Homo sapiens: one gene and its partner. The protein of the gene in region 2 interacts with the protein of the main gene of each other region in a biochemical or structural test. Each region holds a gene or a part of one and is shown on either strand. Other genes may lie near its edges.

The links.
Region 1: of the proteins of MLKL (region 2) and CYLD, one has a biochemical effect on the other in vitro, tested with the Homo sapiens proteins (one study listed by BioGRID).

What each region holds. Positions count from the first base shown.
Region 1 is NC_000016.10:50,771,910-50,780,880, reverse strand, and holds part of CYLD (ubiquitin carboxyl-terminal hydrolase CYLD), read right to left. Parts: intron 5,716-8,971; coding exon 5,707-5,715; intron 4,703-5,706; coding exon 4,604-4,702; intron 3,057-4,603; coding exon 2,940-3,056; intron 1,217-2,939; coding exon 837-1,216; intron 1-836. UniProt on the Homo sapiens protein: Deubiquitinase that specifically cleaves 'Lys-63'- and linear 'Met-1'-linked polyubiquitin chains and is involved in NF-kappa-B activation and TNF-alpha-induced necroptosis.
Region 2 is NC_000016.10:74,697,145-74,705,935, reverse strand, and holds the start of MLKL (mixed lineage kinase domain-like protein), read left to right. Parts: upstream 1-5,073; 5' UTR 5,074-5,483; intron 5,484-8,791. UniProt on the Homo sapiens protein: Pseudokinase that plays a key role in TNF-induced necroptosis, a programmed cell death process. Does not have protein kinase activity.

The DNA of each region.
Region 1 (8,971 bases), about 24 Mb from region 2:
AAGATAGTATTCACTAGCATGGAAACAAACAAGAAAAAAAAAAAAAGAAATATATTTAAATTGGCCAGGTGTGGTGGCTCATGCCCATAATCCTAGCACTTTAGGAGGCCAAGGCGGGCAGATCACTTGAGTCCAGGAGTTTGAGACCAGCCTGGGCAACATGGCAAAACCCTGTCTCTACTAAAAATACAAAAAATTACCAAGCATGATGGTACATGTCTGTAATTCCAGCTACTCAGGTGACTGAGGCAGGAGAATAGCTTGAGCCCAGGAGGTCGAGGCTGCAGTGAGCCCTGACCGTGCTACTGCACTCCAGTCTGGGTGACAGAGTGAGACCCCATCTCTAAATAAATCCTAAACATACTCAACTTCTCCTTTCCTGATTACAAAATATCAAATGATATGTTCTCCTGATCTCTAAAGGGAAAACCTTTCCCTCTAGCAAAGGTCTCAAAAGATCTCTAAAAATGGTGATTAACTTTAAAGCCAGTGATATAATTATTAGAACTGACCAGGGGAAGGGGCTGAAGAAGAAAGAGAAAAGCTGATGGCAAATTTGCTTGATTTACTAAATTCTGTTTAATATAAGGAGCCTAAATCGATTGGCCTAAAAATCAACTTTCATTCCTTGAACATAAATCAACTAACATTAGGACAAGTGGGTCGCAAGCTTCAGGGGCGGCAAAGGGAAGTCAGAAAACATGGTGAGAAAATTATTCTGCAGTGATAGCTTTTCTGACAAATATAACAGTTTGTCAAAAAGCATATAATAGGGCGAAATCTGCACAAAACCTCACAGAGAAAAAAATTGAAATTTTTGGGTCAAGTTAAATTACCAGTTCCAGTCCAGCGAGCACTTCATTCAGTCCTGGTGGCTGACCGATCCAACGGATTACCCCATAGAAAGGAGGGTTCTCCTTAACTTCAGCCAATGAGCCCACTTCTAGACCATGTGAGTTCCCAGGAGGCATGGCCAAGGGTGGACTCTCTTGGACGGGTGCAGTGTTTAGCTCTTCCATTACAGACTGGGCTGACAGAGAAAGTGGACTGTGGCCAATACTTCCATTGGTATTGGGCATCTTGGTGAGACTGAATGGTAAAGAGTGGAATCTGTTCTCGGTGGTCAGTGAGTTCACAGGAGGAGGCTGGAGTGGTGGTGAAGAACGGTCAAAGTCTGTAGATATCTCTGTAAGAGATTTTGCAGGGTCTTCTGCAACTAAAAAATTATTCCTAATTACAGAAATGTATTCAAGGATATTGACTCTGTCTTACATTTCTAAAAATTTATATACAGATCTAGTCCAACTGCCCACCTGACCTCCCTGCTATTAATAGTACTCTCATAGGCATCACAAAGTTATTATCTCCAACAGTGTTCTCGCTCCTCTCTCCACCTCCATATTTATGCACCTCAGTCAATGGCACCCAACTGTTCAAACCAAAAAAATCTATTATCAGCGGGTATCGTATACGTGATAGTCTTTGTCCAAAATACAATTAATTGAGAAGGCAGTACAAAAAGATACCGAAAACCTTAAGAAACGCTTCTATATATCTAATGGATCAAAAAAGAAATAATACGTTTTAACAATAAAGAAAAAAGAGAGAAAAAGTAACAAAGAAAGAAAGAATCCTTGTGAAACATGGCTAAATTAATACTTATAAGGGAATTTTATAGACTTCATTGCTTATTTCAGAAAAAAACAAAAGCTAAATATGAACTCAGCATACAACTTGGGAAGTTAAAAGAACAGAATAACCCTCAAAAAAGTAGAGAAGAATAAACTAAAGAACAGAAACAACAGAAGAGAGAAAACAAACATACAATAAGAAGTTCAAAGCCAGAATAAACACAAACACAGAATGTAATTTAAGAGAAACCAAACACATGATAAAGAGAGCCACAGCCAAAAGCTATTTTCTTAAAATGACTAATACAGCTGACAGGCAGGTATTGCAGATCAATGACAAAAGAATGAACTTCTTACTAAATGCTGTTGAGATAATTGGTTATCCATATTTTTAAAAAAAAATTAAACAGGAATCCTACTCATACTTTACATGAAAATCAGCTCCAGGTGCCTTAAAAACAAATGTGGCAGGCAAAACTCTAAAGGCTGGGAGACCACAGAGTCAGGCCTGTTTGCCTTTCCATTCTCATCTCATGAATGTCATGCCTCTGTCTGTGTTCTAGTCCCTGGCAAACACTAGCTTCCATTCTTCCAGGAGGACTTTCCCTATGCTATTTCTTCTCCCGAGGAAGTTCTAGCCCCTTTCACTTTGTCATCTGTCACTCCTCTGGTAAACCTAAGCATGTGTCACTGCCCCAAAGAAACACCCCTAAGACCCTGAGAAAAATCATCTTTGGTGTATTCTCACAGCATCATGCACCTTCACTGCACACACCACCAAGGCAACTCTACTGTGTCTGTGGTTGTTTGACTAATTTCTATCTCAACAACTTAACAACTGCAAACTCACAAAGGGCATGAACCATGTCTATTTTTTCTCACCATTTTCATCTTGATGCCTAAAAGAATGCCTGGCAATCATAAGCACTCAATAAATATTTGTTGAACAAATGAACAAAGAAGAGAATAAACTAGGTGAAAATGATGTCCCAGGACCAAGGGAAGATAAAATTTTTTAAAAGGGAGTGCTTTAAAGAGGTCAGGAAGGAACCAGACAGAAATCTTCCACCCTAAATAGATCAGCAGTTAAAGGAAAAGAACAAATTACTAATACATTTCTTAAACATTTTAATAATCTTAACAGCAGTACGGTTCAAACTGTGTACAATATTTTAGTTCAGCAATATTACAAAGAGCGGTCTACTTATTCTGTTTCCAAAAACTACAAATATTGATATAAAAAACCATTTTTCTCTGATGAGTTAGAAAGAAAGGATCATTATAAAGAACACTAAAATTACTGATTACCTTCATCAATGTACCATGTATTTTTTGATTTGGATTGTGGTTGTGAGTCAACAGAAGACCCATTTAAGGTATAAAATAATTCAGATCTGTTTCTATTTCCAGGGTCTGAGGTAGATCCTATAGGAACAAGAAAAGTTTCATTTAAAAATAAAGTCAATATAGCATCAAAGTTTTTTTTTAGTAAGAGAAATTATTATGAATATGATGTTAATAACTGTTTACATAACCAATAAATGTATATAAACACAATATGTTTTTTAACTGTCTTCAGCTTTTAAAAATTTGGTAACCATTTTGACAATATTAAAAATATTTTTCAGCCCAAAAGTCAAGATAGGAGGGAAACAGGAGTAAGTTAAAAGAAAAGCCCACTCATTTTTAAAAAAAATGAACTGCTTTAAGAAATTGTTCCATGTACCACAGCTTATTTCTAAATGTCAAAATCACCATTCTCCAGCTTCATTTCATAGACCCATTGGTTCACAAATTTAACCTATTATTTTAAAAGAAGGTAATCCTCAAATTCTATATATAAATCAATACACAAATTACATTTAAAAATAGTTAAGTTTTAAACATTTTGGAATTTTTGGTCATCAAATTCCTTGTGTCTTTGAAAAAATCAAGCACTATTATTTCTTACAGATTGGATTTATTATACGTGAGAGGGCGAGTGTAGCTATGCCACAGCCATTTCATGACATTACCCTGCCTCAGTATTAATTCAAGGACATACCACACACAGTGGAGGGCAGTGGGCTCTCCAGAACCCACAAAAAAGCTGATTTCCCTTTTCAAATTAAAGCAGGTAGCTGTACATTTTATAACTTTAAGATCTACTACAATACAATTAACATGCCATAGCTTAAGAAAATCTTTAGTCTGTTTCTATTTAAGTGAGAGTAGCAAGTTTGAGCTATCCTATATAGATCTATAGGTTAACATAAAAAAGACTGTTACCTATATATCCTGCAATTAATCCTAAGTCTCCCAGGCCCCAATGTCACATAAAATAATTCTTAAAGTACAATTTCCTTTTAAATGAGCCAAAATTGTAATAATTGAGGAAAAAATATTCTTTTCCTAACTCGCATCTGAGTTAACAAAAATTCTCAGAGCCTTTTTAATGAGCTCTTTGGCTTGTATAACTACTATTCTATAAATCTATGAAGTATGTGGAAGCTAACAAAAAAAAGAGCTGTAAGCTCCACACATATTGTGAGGAAGCTTCTGGGAAAGAGAAGAAATTTTTGCTTAGCAGTTTGGGATTTAATTTGTACCAAATCTAGTTAGCAAAATCCATTTAATTAACCTCTAGTATACTTTATCCTATATAACATTATCCATATAGGATTATTTTACACAGTTGCAATCCTAAACTATACATACAAATATTCCAAGTAAGGAGTTCCAAAAACCATTTGATTATAGACCAGCAAAACACACAAGACCCTATGGGGAACTCTTCCTGAGGTAAAAAAGGCTGGGAACACTTGGCTTAAGCAACAGTATTTATATACAAACTTTAGTTTCACTACTAAAAATGTTTGAAAGAAAAAAAGTCTACATACATGTTCAGAAGTAATAGCTTATAATCTTTTTTAATGCTATGGCAAGTTAGGCATTATGCAAATTACTAAAGGTTATATGCTATTAATCCATACCTGTAGCCTTTGGTTTATTATGACTGGATGAACCTTTGTCCCCAACACCTCTTGACATAAAGGCAAGTTTGGGAGGCCTCCTTTCCTGCGTCACACTCTCTGAAACAGTAAGCATGTTTTTTAAAGATAAAGGCAAATTCTTATAGAAGAGAAACAAGGAATGACAGTAACAAAATAAAAAAACCCTCTTTCCACAAAAAGGCAGAATTTTTAGTTTTACAAATGCCTTTTAAAGGCCATCAAAAGTATTGAAAAAGATAATACTATGGGGGAAAAAACCAATGCTGTATTTCAAAATGTAATTTCTATAAGAAAATACCCTCTCAAAATACAATTCAGCTAAATGCTTTAACCTCTTGAAAATTTAATCACTTGTAGTCAATTTTATTTGATCTCTTAAAACACTACAAAGAAAATCTTACTCGGTTTTTTACAGCATTTCCCAAATCAGCAGGCTTAGAACACCCCTGTGTATTATGAAGTGTTTCGAACTCAAATATTTCTTGAAGATGCTGAGATAAACAAAGATAAACAATTTCTTTACTGCACGGAACCAGAGCCTTTAATATGCTAATGTGCATTGTGAACTGCTCAGGGAGAAACAAAATAAACTTATTGATAAAAATTTTTGTGCCACTTTGCTTAGCATCTCAGATTAATATTATTTCATGAACACAGTTTGAAAAAAGCCTGGTTAGGAATATGTATCATGGTTAGGAAAGAAAGTTCTGGTTAAGAACATATATCTGTTTTTAAAAACATATATGTTAAGAATAACACAGATGTGTATACAAACACTTATACATATAAAAGAGGAAAACATAGAGAATTATGCATAGATTAAAAATACAGAAAGCCAGAGACACACAACAATAATATATTTGAAGAAAACACTCACAATTATTTCTGAAATATAGGTGTAATAAGTGTGGCAAACTTGTTTTGAATACAAAGACCACTCTAGACCTTAAAGCCCAGCAATGATCATAGAATACTCCTAAATACTGATCAAGGGAATGTAGAAGAGGCAGTGTGAAAAGTTCTTCCTTTGAAAAATTCAACAATACATCCGTGGAGTCCAACACGACACTTAGGAGTCATACCTGATAAAGCTGTGTGTCAGCAAAAACGATATCACCCACAGTGGATTTGAGGACAGAAAGAAAGAAATAGGAAAATTTTTACATTTTAAACACAAGGAAAAGACTTTTCTTAAAAAAAGAGGAAATTTACTAAATGAATTATATGTAAATACTTGGTAACTTTTTTCCATGGTTGAAAGAGGAGGGGGATGTGTTATTAAACTATATCTTAAACATCTCATAATATGATCCAATAGAATATGAAAATATTTTAATTCAAAAATTATACCAATTAACCACGATTTCGATCAAGTGATATAATAAGAGAAAAGCTATGTACTAATACTGTGGTCCCCACTTATCCACACTTTTACCTTCCACGGTATCAGTTACCCACAGTCAACCACTGTCCAAAAATATTAAATAAAAAATTGCAGAAACAGACAATTCGTAAGTTTTAAGTTGCATGCTGTTTTGAGTATTATAACGAAATCTTGCACCATCCTAATCCATAACCCCTGACGTAACCCATCCCCGTCCAGCATCTCCACACTGTGTCTACTCCCTGCCTTGTTAGTCACTTAGTAGCCACCTCAGTCATCAGATCAACTATTGCAGTATCACAGTGCTTACATTCAAGTCACCCTTATTTTACTTAATAATAGTCCTGAAGTACACGAGTAGTGATGTTGCCATATTGTTATTATTGTCTCTTCTCTGATTATTGTTTTCAATATCTTATTGTGCCTAATATATAAATTAAACTTTATCAGAGGCATGAATGTAGAGGAAAAACACAGTATACGTAGGGTTCAGTACTATCCATAGTTTCAGGTATCCACTGGGGGTCTTGGAAGTATCCCTTGATGAAAGAGGAGACCACTGTTCTTTTATGATGTTGTCATTCAGATATCTTTAAATAGCACCCATGACAGATACTTCAGAAGGAAAATCTTAGTCACTGAGAAGAGTTCCTAAATTATAGCATATAAATTTCCTAAAGAAAAACAACTCCCACTATTAACTGTAATTAACTGCATATAACATTTTTAAAGTATGTTCACATGTATACCACGATATAGATCCATTATATAGTTAGTAACCATTATAACAAATGAAGCAAGTGCTCTTCCCTTTGTTAGGCTTTGAAGGTAGCCTGGCAGGACTGGAGAGCCAACTGGATGGCCGGTGGTGACAGTTCTGCAGGTGACACTAGGGAGGAGCTCCAAAGATTAGGAATGTGAGCAGGGGGGCACTGGAGTTGGAAACTGTGGCTACCTTCTGTCAAAGGCTGTCTGAGAGGGGGTCAAATATCAGCTCTGAAGAAGAAGACATTCCATCAGAATTCTATACAGACAAAGGGGCACAAACCACCTCTAATTGCCCTCCAGCAATTACACACCAAATATTTCTTATTACTTTGTCACAACTGTGTTCATGGCCCAAAACTACTTGGGTCATGAAGCAAAGCTTTCAAAGTTAAATGAATTATAAGTGATTACCAACTCAGAAAAAGATAAATATGGGATGGAAAGCAAGGTAAGATAAATTCAGCTGGCAATTTTGTGTGATTAAAACAAACCTGATTAAAGATATTAAAAGATATAGAAGATAATTCCACCAAACAGCATGAGTAAAAATGTACAGAGCAGCCCTATTCATTCTAATCAAAAGCTGGAAACAAGCTATTCTACAGAAGAATAGAGAAACAAATTATGGTCTATTCATACAATGGAATACTACATAGCAATAAAAAAGGAACAAACTACTGATAAACAGGGCAACATGGACATTGTGTTCAGCAAAAGAAACCAAACCAAAAGTATCCATTATGTATACACAGCAAGATTGCATTTAAATGATAAAATTCACAGCTTATCCATCACTTGTTGATTTAACCAGAAAAAGAAAAATCCCTTGGAGAATCTTGAGCAGGAAATCATAACAATAAACTAGTGAACAAGTTATTGTTCAAATCAAATGAAATGTCTATGAATTTGAATGACCCAGTAAATTAAGAGAAATTGTTTAATTAATGTACCGCTTAACATCAGCAGCCACAAGAGCATAATTCAGACTCAAATGAGAATTTAACATCCACAGAAATCTTGTGAAGAAAATACAGTTTACTTGAGTAGAATGAGGTATTATTAAACCCGATGCCAGAAATATCCTACATAGCAACTATTCAAAAATCTCTAAAAGGTTGGGTTCCTGCTCAGAATAAATATTTTCCATAATAGTATATGAAAAATTCTTCAAGAAATGCTTGAAGGTGCCATATAGATAACACCAAAAGTTGCATGCTGATATCTGGTGCTTCAAATTATCCTTCTTCAGGGCTCCAGCTCTAACTGTCTCATAGGACCAGGAGTACTGCCTATACAGGCAACATTCATGGTGACTCCGATTGACAAGCAATCTCTATGAAAGCCATGTATTACTGTCTATCAAAATGTAAAATGCATAGCAATTCTACTCCTAGGAAGTTATCTTTTTATACTGGCACACATGCTAACTGATACACAGATACAAAGTTATTCACTGAAGCACTGTTTATAACAGCAAAAGATTGAAAACAACCTAAATGCTCATCAGTAGGAGGCTGGTTCAAAAATTATGGTACATGCATAAAATGAAATATAATTCAATGATTTAAACAAAAGACCAAGTATACAACTTATGTACTAATATGAAATAATCTCTAATATCTATTGTTAAGTTAAAAAGGAAGGTGCAACTTCTACTTCTGGGAAGATAAAGTAGATGTACTTCCTATTTCTTTTGCTAAGTACAACTAAAATCTCTAGACATAATATATAAAACAAATATAAGAAGACTTTGAAAGGTAGAGATGAGAAGGTAGACCAGCTAGGAACCTCAAGACCTAAGAAATAACATCACAGAGATTTCCCTCTGGGTTTTCTTCTTGACTACATTCTTATCCCATACTTAGAGATAAAAAAATCAGCACCCTGGAAACATCAATAGGCATAGACAAAAGAAGGCCCCAACCAAAGTTTTGCTCTCTCTAGCCAAAGGATATCAATTCTCCCCAAAGTTATATACAGGTTTAATGTAATTCCTATCAAAATCTCAAGAAGATTTTGTATAGATGTACACAAGATTACTCTAAAATGCATATGGAAAGGCAAAAGATCTAGAATAACTAAAATAATTTTGGAAAAGAATAAAGTAGGAGGAATTAGTTTAATAGATTGCAAGACTTACTAGTTAGCCGCAGTGATCGAGACTGTGGTATGGGCAGTAGGACAGACACACAGAT
Region 2 (8,791 bases):
GTATATTGGCTTGTAGTTTTCGTTTCTTGTGTCTTTATCTGGCTTTAGTATCAGAGTAATGCTGGTTTCTTAAAATGAGTTAGGAAGTGTTTCCTCCTCTCCTATTTTTGGAAGAGTTTGAGAATGATTGGTGGTAATTTATTTTTAAATGTTTGGTAGAAAACACCGCATGTTCTCACTCATAAGTGGGAGTTGAACAATGAGAACACATTGACGCAGGGAAGTGAACATCACCCACCAGGGCCTGTCAGGTGGTGGGGGCTAGGGAAGGGATAGCATTAGGAGAAATACCTAATGTAGGTGGCGGGTTGATGGGTGCAGGAAACCAGCATGGCACGTGTATACCTATGTAACAAAACTGCACATTCTGCACTGTACCCCAGGACTTAAAATATAATAAAAAAATATAATAAATACAATAAATAAAAGTCTCCAAGAAAGAAAAAAATGTTTGGTAGAATTTACTGTAAAACTATTAGGCCTGGACTTTACTTGTTTGGAGGAGTTTTGATTATTAATTCAATTTCTTTACTTGTTGTAGGTATGTTCAGATTTTCTATTTCTCATTGAGTGAATTAGGTAAATTTTGCGTGCCTGGGAATTTGTCCATATCCTCTAGGTTACCTAATTGGTTGGCAAACAATTGTTCATAGTTTTCTCTCATAGTCCTTTTTATTTCTGTAAGGTAGATAGTAAGGTCCCCACTTTCATTTCTGATTTAAGTTATTTTCATCTTCTTTTTGTTTTAGTTTAGCTAAGGATTCGTCAATTTTATTAATCTTTTCAAAGAACTAACTTTCAGTTTCATTGATTTTCTCTTTTCTGATCTTGGTAATTTCCTCCCTTCTGCTAGTTTTGGGTTTGATTTGTTCTTCTTTTACTAGTTCCTTAAAGGGTAGAGTTGGGATAATGATTTGAGATCTCTCTCTCTCTTTTTTTTTTTTTTTTTTTTGAGATGGAGTCTCACTCTGTCACCCAGGCTGGAGTGCAGTGGCATGATCTTGGCTCACTACAACCTCTGCCTCCTGGGTTCAAGCGATTCTCCTGCCTCAGCCGCCTGAGTAGCTGAGATTACAGGTGCCCGCCATCACGTCGGGCTATTTTTTTTTTTTTTTTTTTTGTATTTTTAGCAGACGGGGTTTCACCGTGTTGGCCAGGCTGGTCTTGAACTCCTAACCTCGTGATCCACCCGCCTCAGCCTCCCAAAGTGCTGGGATTACAGGCATGAGCCACGGCACCAGGCCTCTCTCTTTTTCTCTTTTGTAGCCATGTAGCTATAAATTATCCTTTGAGAACTGTTTTTGCTGCATCCCCTAAGTTTTGGCATGTTGTATCTTTTATTTGTCTCGAAGTATTTTCTAATTTCCCTTGTGATTTCTTCTTTGTCCCACTAGTTGTTTAAGTGTATGTTGTTTAATTTCTGCATATTTGTGAATATTCCAGTTCTCTTTCTGTTATTTATTTCTAGTTTTATTCTATTGTGGTCAAAGAAGATGCTTTGTATGATTTTGATCTGTTTAAATTTATTGAGCAAAATATATCTTCATTTCTCTTGAGAAAATGTCCTTTTTGACTCATGAATTATTTAGAAGCATATTATTTGACATGTGATTTGCAAACATTTTCTCCCAATCTGTAACTTGTCTTTTCATCCCCTTAAAAGGGTCTTTGCAGAGCAAGTTTCAAATTTTGATCAAGTCTGATTTATCATTTTTTAATTTTAAGAATAATGGCTTTGGGGCCAGGCGCAGTGGCTCATGCCTGTAATCCCAGCACTTTGGGAGGCCAAGGCAGGTAGATCACTTGAGGTCAGGAGTTCGAGACCAGCCTGGCCAACATGCTAAAACTCCATCTCTACTAAAAATACAAAAAAAAACTAGCCAAGCGTGGTGGCACATGCCTGTAGTCCCAGCTTGTTGGAAGGCTGAGGCAGGAGAATTGTTTGAGCCCTGGAGGTGGAGGTTGCAGTAAGCTGAGATCACAGCACTGCACTACAGCCTGGCAACAGAGGGAGACTCCGTCTCAAAAAAAAAAAAAAGAAAGAAAAAGAAAAGAAGAAAGAATAATAATGGCTTTGATGTTATGCCTAAGAATTCTTCGCCTAGCCTTAGGTTCTGAAGATTTTCTTCTACATGTTCTACAAGTTTTTTTTTTTTTCAAATGTTTGTGATTTTTTTTTTCAAATGGCAACTCCAAGATAAAGCCAAAGAAACTGGGAATTATTTTTAATATTGTACAATTTTTAGTATGAATAGCCATTCTTATTAAATAGACTCATTTGGCCAGGCAAGGTGGCTCAAGCTCGTAATCCCAACACTTTGGGGGGCCAAGGCATGAGGATTGCTTGAGTTCAGAAGTTCAAGATCAGCCTCAGCAACACAGGGAGACCTCTGTCTCTACTAAAAATAAAAACATTTTAAAGGGCTCATTTAAACTTTTTTCTTTTCTTTTTTTTTTTTTTTTTTTTTGAGACGGAGTCTCACTCTGCCACCCAGGCTGGTGTGCAATGGCGCGATCTCGGCTCACTGCAAGCTCCGCCTCCTGGGTTCACATCGTTCTCCTGCCTCAGCCTCCCGAGTAGCTGGGACTACAGGCACCCGCCACCACATCCGGCTAATTTTTTTTTGTATTTTTAGTAGAGATGGGGTTTCACCGTGTTAGCCAGGATGGTCTTAATCTCCTGACCTCGTGATCCGCCCACCTCGGCCTCCCAAAGTGCTGGGATTACAGGCGTGAGCCACTGCGACCGGCCCTAAACTTTTTTCAAACATTTACATTTTCTCAACAGGAAATGTCCTTTCATTCTGCACAGTTCTCTCTGCTTTCTTCTAAAAGGTTCCTTGTTTTACATTTTACATTTAAATCTCTGATCCATTCAGGCAATTTTTGCATAGAATATGAGGTTTAGGTGAAGTTCATTTTTTTGTTCAGTTACTCCACCACCATTTGAACACCACCTATCTGGCAAAGGATTAATATCTAGAATATTTAAACTCTCAAAACTCAAGTTTTTTAAAAAGAATTCAACTAAAAATGGGCAAAAGACATGGACAGACATTTCACCAATGAGGCTATACAGATGGCAAACAAGCACATGAAAACATGTCCATCATCACCAGGCACTAAAGAAATGCCAATTAAAACCATGATGAGACCAGGCGCAGTGGCTCATGCCTATAATCCCAGCACTTTGGGAGGCCAAGGTGGGTGGATCACCTGAGGTCAGGAGTTCGAGACCAGTCTGGCCAATATGGCGAAACGCTGTCTCTACTAAAAATACAAAAAATAGACAGGTGTGGTGGTGCACGCCTGTAGTCCCAGCTACTTGGGAGGCTGAGGCTGGAGAATCGCTTGAACCCAGGAGGTGGAGGTTGCAGTGAGCTGAGATGGCGCCACTGCACTCCAGCCTGGGCAACAGAGTAAGACTCTATCTCAAAACAAAACAAAACAAAAAACCATGATGATATATCACTATTCACCTGTTAGAATAGCTAAAAATTCAGGCAGGGACAAAATAAAATGCTGCTGAGGATGCAGAGAAACTGAATGTCTTGTACATTGATGGTGGGACAGTAAAAAAAAAAAAAAAGAAAAGAAAAGAAAAAAACTTCCAAAAGGTTATACATTGTATGATTTTGTTTATAGCAGATCAGTATACCCATCCTGCAGCTGCTATGAGTGTTGACAGCTAAACACTCACACAGCTTCCCCCTCGTCCAGAAGAATTGCCCTGGGCAGAAAGGAGGCTGCCTCTTGTTCCAGACCTTCACATTCCAGACCTCCCCATGGAGCCTCCACTGACTACATACTTGTTTCACTTTTTCTTCCTCTGCCCTATCATACCCACCACTCTCCTAAGAGTCTTCCTTCAATAAATCACAGGCACCTGTGTTACTTGTTGAAGGTGTCCAGGTTCTTGGCATCTTGAACAAAGAAATGGGCAAAATGCACAAAGCAAGGAAAGAATGAGGCAACAAAAGCAGAGATGTATTGAAAACAAAGGTACACTCCACAGGGTGGGAGCCAGCGTGAGCATAGGGGCTCAAGAACTCCGTTACAGAATTTTCTGGGATTTAAATACCCTCTAGAGGCTCCCATTGGTTAATTGGTGTACACCCTATGTAAATGAAGAAGATGAAGTGAAGTTGCTCAGTCACTTACTCAGTGAACGCCATATGTAAATGAAGAAAATATTTCCTGTCATAGCTGAAATGTGTCCATTTTATTTAGTTCTAAGAAGTCAGCGTGAATCAGCTTTATGTTCCCTGCCTGCAGACCCTATTCTCCTGCCTCACCTCAATCTCTTCACCTAAGACAGGAAGAAAACTGATGATGCAGGAGACGAAGAACAATAGCAAGGCGAAGAAATGAATCTCCAAGGCCGGCTTCAAGCGATTCTCCCCTCTCAGGCTCCCGAGTAGCTGGGATTACAGGCATGCACCACCACGCCTGGCTAATTTTTGTATTTTTAGTAGAGACAGGGTTTCCCCATGTTGGCCAGGATGGTCTTGAACTCCTGACCTCAGGTGATCTGGCCACCTCCGCCTCCCAAAGTGCTGGAATTACAGGCATGAGCCACCACACCCAGCTCCCAGTTCTGTTCTTTTAGAGGCAAATAGTCTGTTGAGTAAATGCATAACACTACTTAGACTTTCTAGCTGAAGATGTAGTTAATCTTAAGAAAACCTGACTCACACTGTAACAGGATGTTCTGCAATGACCTTAGAAGAGGAAGTGACTTTTTTCCCACTTTGGTGTCTCTTCCCTCGTACCCTCCCCACCCCGCCAATATTATCCAGCACAGAGAAGCAAACACCAGAAGCTTCTCTCCAACTTTCAGTTTTTCTCTAAACTTCCAGTCCTTCTCATACTGTGTCCTGGTTATAATAGTTGCTGGGACCTTATTCTATTCTGAATCCCCAGCCCCTAAAGAAGGCTTGGTACTGACGTGTACAGCGTAGTTACCCAGTGACTTTGGGGAAGGCAGGAAGAGTGTGGAAAGGACAGGAGGAAGGAAGGGAGGGGCCGTGGCTCCGAGCTGCCTAGAAAGCGGCTCCAGGGAGCCAGGGCACCGTGAGCCTGGTGGTTGGCAGCTGGAGCCACGTCGGAGGGGGAAGTGTCGCAGCATTCTCTGCAGGCATCACAGACCTGAGGCAGTGGCCTCCGGAGGGCACTGGACAGAAACAGCCATCCAAGTGGCTGAGTGGAGGGACCCTGCTCAAGTGCAGCTGCAGTGGCCGGGGTTTCCCTCAGGTAGGGATCGGGGCGCCTTGTCGCCGCCAGCCACGTGTGGCGTCCGGTACAGTCAGCAGAGTGCAGGGTGCGGGCACCAGGAAAGGGGGCGCAGGGGAACTCCCGCGGGCCTCGCGTTTGCAAACTTCTCGCCTGGGCAGGAGGCGGTCGTGGGAAAGAAGGTGGAAGAGCGAGCTTTTTGGAACTGTGCACGGGACAGATTGGACGCACACCCCTCGGGAGGCGCGAAGGTGAGCATGGGGTCTTCCCAGGAGGCGGCGGGGCCGAGGGGCTGCAGCCGAATTCCTGGACGGTGATGGGAAGAACCAGGGGTGAGGGTGGCCCGGTCCGAGTTCCTGGAACTCAGGACCGAGTTGGTTTCATTTCCTCAGCTCTGATGGTGGAGCTGCCTGCTCGGATCTCGCACTACCTTCCGCCAAAGCGAGACGCCCAGTAGCAGTGGGGGTCGTGGAGGGCAGGGGCACGGGAACAAGTTACCTGATGTCTTCTCAGAAAAAGGAAGTCTTCAGGTTTGCAGGCTGAAGGCGTGAGAGAGAGACAGAGTGAGAGAGAGAGAAGAGGGAAATGCCTGATAACCTTTACTTATTTTATTTTATTTTTATTTTTTATTTTTTGGAGGGAAGAGGTGAATTTGCATTGTTATTACCATTTAAAGATTTTTCACTTTTAAAATTAGTAACCTGTTTTCTCATCGTAACATATGAACATAATCCCCTTTTTCTTTTTATTTATTTATTTTGAGAGATGGAGTCTTCCTCTGTTGCCCAGGCTGGAGCGCAGTGGCACAATCATAGCTCACTGCAGCCTCCGAACTCATGGGCTCAAGTGATCCTCCAACCAGATCCTCCCAAGTAGCTAGGACTACAAGGTGCACATCACCACACCCAATTAAATTTTTTTTGTATTTTTTGGTAGAGCCAGGGTCTCGCTTTGTCACCCAGGCTGGTCTCAAACTCCTGGGCTCAGGTGATCCTCCTACCTCACCCTCCCAAAGTGCTGGGATTACAGGTGTGAGCCACTGCAGCTGGCCTGAACATATTCTTAGCTGTTTGTTTTACATATTATAAATAGCACTGCAGTGAACATCTCGGTAGCCATCTATCTACAAACACAAGCTTTTCTACATCATAAGTTCCTAGAAATTCAAATTGCCCAGTCTAAGTGTGTATATATGTATATTCCCTTTCTTCCCTTGTAGATCATATACTTAATAAGACCTTAAACAATTTAAGTTATTGTAGGGTGCTTTTTCCCAATATTTTGCAGTTTTTAATATATTTTAATTTCATACAGGCAAGTCCCCTTTTCTTTATTTTTTAAAATCCTGGTTATCCCTACTAATTTCCCATTTCAAATGAACTTTAGGATCATTTTGATTTAATGCCAAAATATGTCAGTAGATGTTTTATTGGAACTGCATTAAATTGGATTTAAATTTGGGAAGGATTGCTGGGTTGGTCTGTTTTAGTCTTCCCAGCCAGAAATATAACACTTCTCTTTCCTCCTTTCTTCAAGCTTTGTTTTGTGCAATTTTCTTTCTTTCTTTTTTTTTGTTTTTGTTTTTGTTTTTGAGACGGAGTTTTGCTCTGTTGCCCAGGTTGGAGCACAGTGGTGTGATCTCGGCTCAGTGCAACCTCCACCTCCCGGGTTCAAGCAATTCTCCTGCCTCAGCCTCCCGAGTAGCTGGGATTACAGGCGCCTGCTACCATGCTTGGCTAATTTTAGTATTTTTAGTAGAGATGGGGTTTCACCATGTTGGCCGGGCGATCTCAAACTCCCGACCTCAGGTGATCCACCTGCCTCGGCCTTCCAAAGCGCTGAGATTACAGGCATGAGCCAATGTGACCGCTGCAATTTTCTTCATACCATGCCACCACTGTATAATTTATTATTTGAAATTGTTTGTCAGTTCTATGGGTGGGATATTTTCCCCATTTTCCTTTCTGATTAGTTCAGTGCTGAGATATGGCTTTCTGATGAGGCTGCTGGTAAGATAACTGGAGCTTAGAGCTAGGAAGCTACAATTTGCAAGATTCCTTGAACAACATTGCCACATTTGCTTCTGTTTCTGGTGCAACAGAGAAAGTGTAAAACCTTTTGCCCTCACAATTCCCAAGAAATGGCCTTGAAGATATCTGCTTAGCACGTGGGAATAGCTGGGTAGTCTGAGATCCACTAGTCTTTTTAGGAGTGCCCTAATAACTGTTACCTCCCTTGCCCAATCACTGTAACTCTCAGGCAACAAAAACACAACTATATCGATTGCTCATTTATTTAGTTTCACTTCTGCCAGTGCCTTACTCATGTTTTAAAGCCATACTTGGGCTCCAGGCCAATTATTTTCTCCAAGCTGCTAATTAATCCATAAACTGGCGATAATACTTAACCTACCTATTTCACTGAGCTGTTAAAAAAAAAAAAACTAACTTTGTTTTTTGTTGTCGTTTGTTAGTGGTGGTGGTGGTGGTGTTTTTGAGACACTGTCTCATTCTGTTGCCCATGCTGGAATGGAGTCAGTGGCACAATCATGGCTCACTGCAGCCTCGACCTCCCAGCCTCAATCAATTCTCCCTCCTCAGGCTCCAGAGTAGCTGGGACTACAGGCAAGCACCACCACATCCAGCAAATTTTTGTATTTTTTTGTAGAGACAGGGTTTCACCATGTTGCCCAGGCTGGTCTCGAACTCAGGCTCATACGATCCCCTGGCCTCAGCCTCACAAAGTGCTGGGATTACAGGTTTGAGTCATGACACCCTACCCTAACTTTATTTTAAATACTTTGAAAACTGGTTCCATGGCCTTGTGATTATTTGAATGCAACCTCCCTGAACCGCAGCATCTTCACTTTTCACCTGTTTGTTTTTTCGAGACAGGGTCTCTCTGTTTCCCTGGCTGGAGTGCAGTGGTGTCATCATAGCTCACTGCAGCCTCAACCTCCCAGGCTCAAGCGATTCTCCCGCCTCAGCCTCCTGAGTAGCTGGGACTACAGGTCCCAGCTAATTTTTGTATTTTTAGTAGAGATGGGTCTCGCTGTGTTGCCCAGAATGGAACTCCTGGCCTCAAGCAATCTTCCCACCTCTACCTCCCAAAATGTTGGGATTACGGGTATGAACTACTGTGCCCAGATGGTATCTTCATCTGTTAAATGAAAATAACCATGGAGAGCTGGGGGTTCCAAAGCACTTAGGATGTAGTAGGTGAATTGAGAGATCTAGTGTCATAATTATTATCATCATTCATTGCTGAACGCAGTCGGCTTCAGTTGCAAATAAAGCAAACATGATTCAAACTGCCTTAAACAATCAGGGAGGTTATTGGTTCATGAAACCTGCAGTTAGGGGATGGGGTACACTTCATGTCAGTTCAAACCAGTGGCTCAATGTTGTCATCAAAGACTCAGATTCTTTCTCCCTTTCCATTCTACCATGCTCAGGTTAGCCTCATTCCAAGCTTTAGGATCAGGGCTCTGTGCTTCCTCACTCATGTTCAGAGAAGAGAGAGAGGTTAAGAGTAGGAAGCTGGCACTGCAGCCTCAACC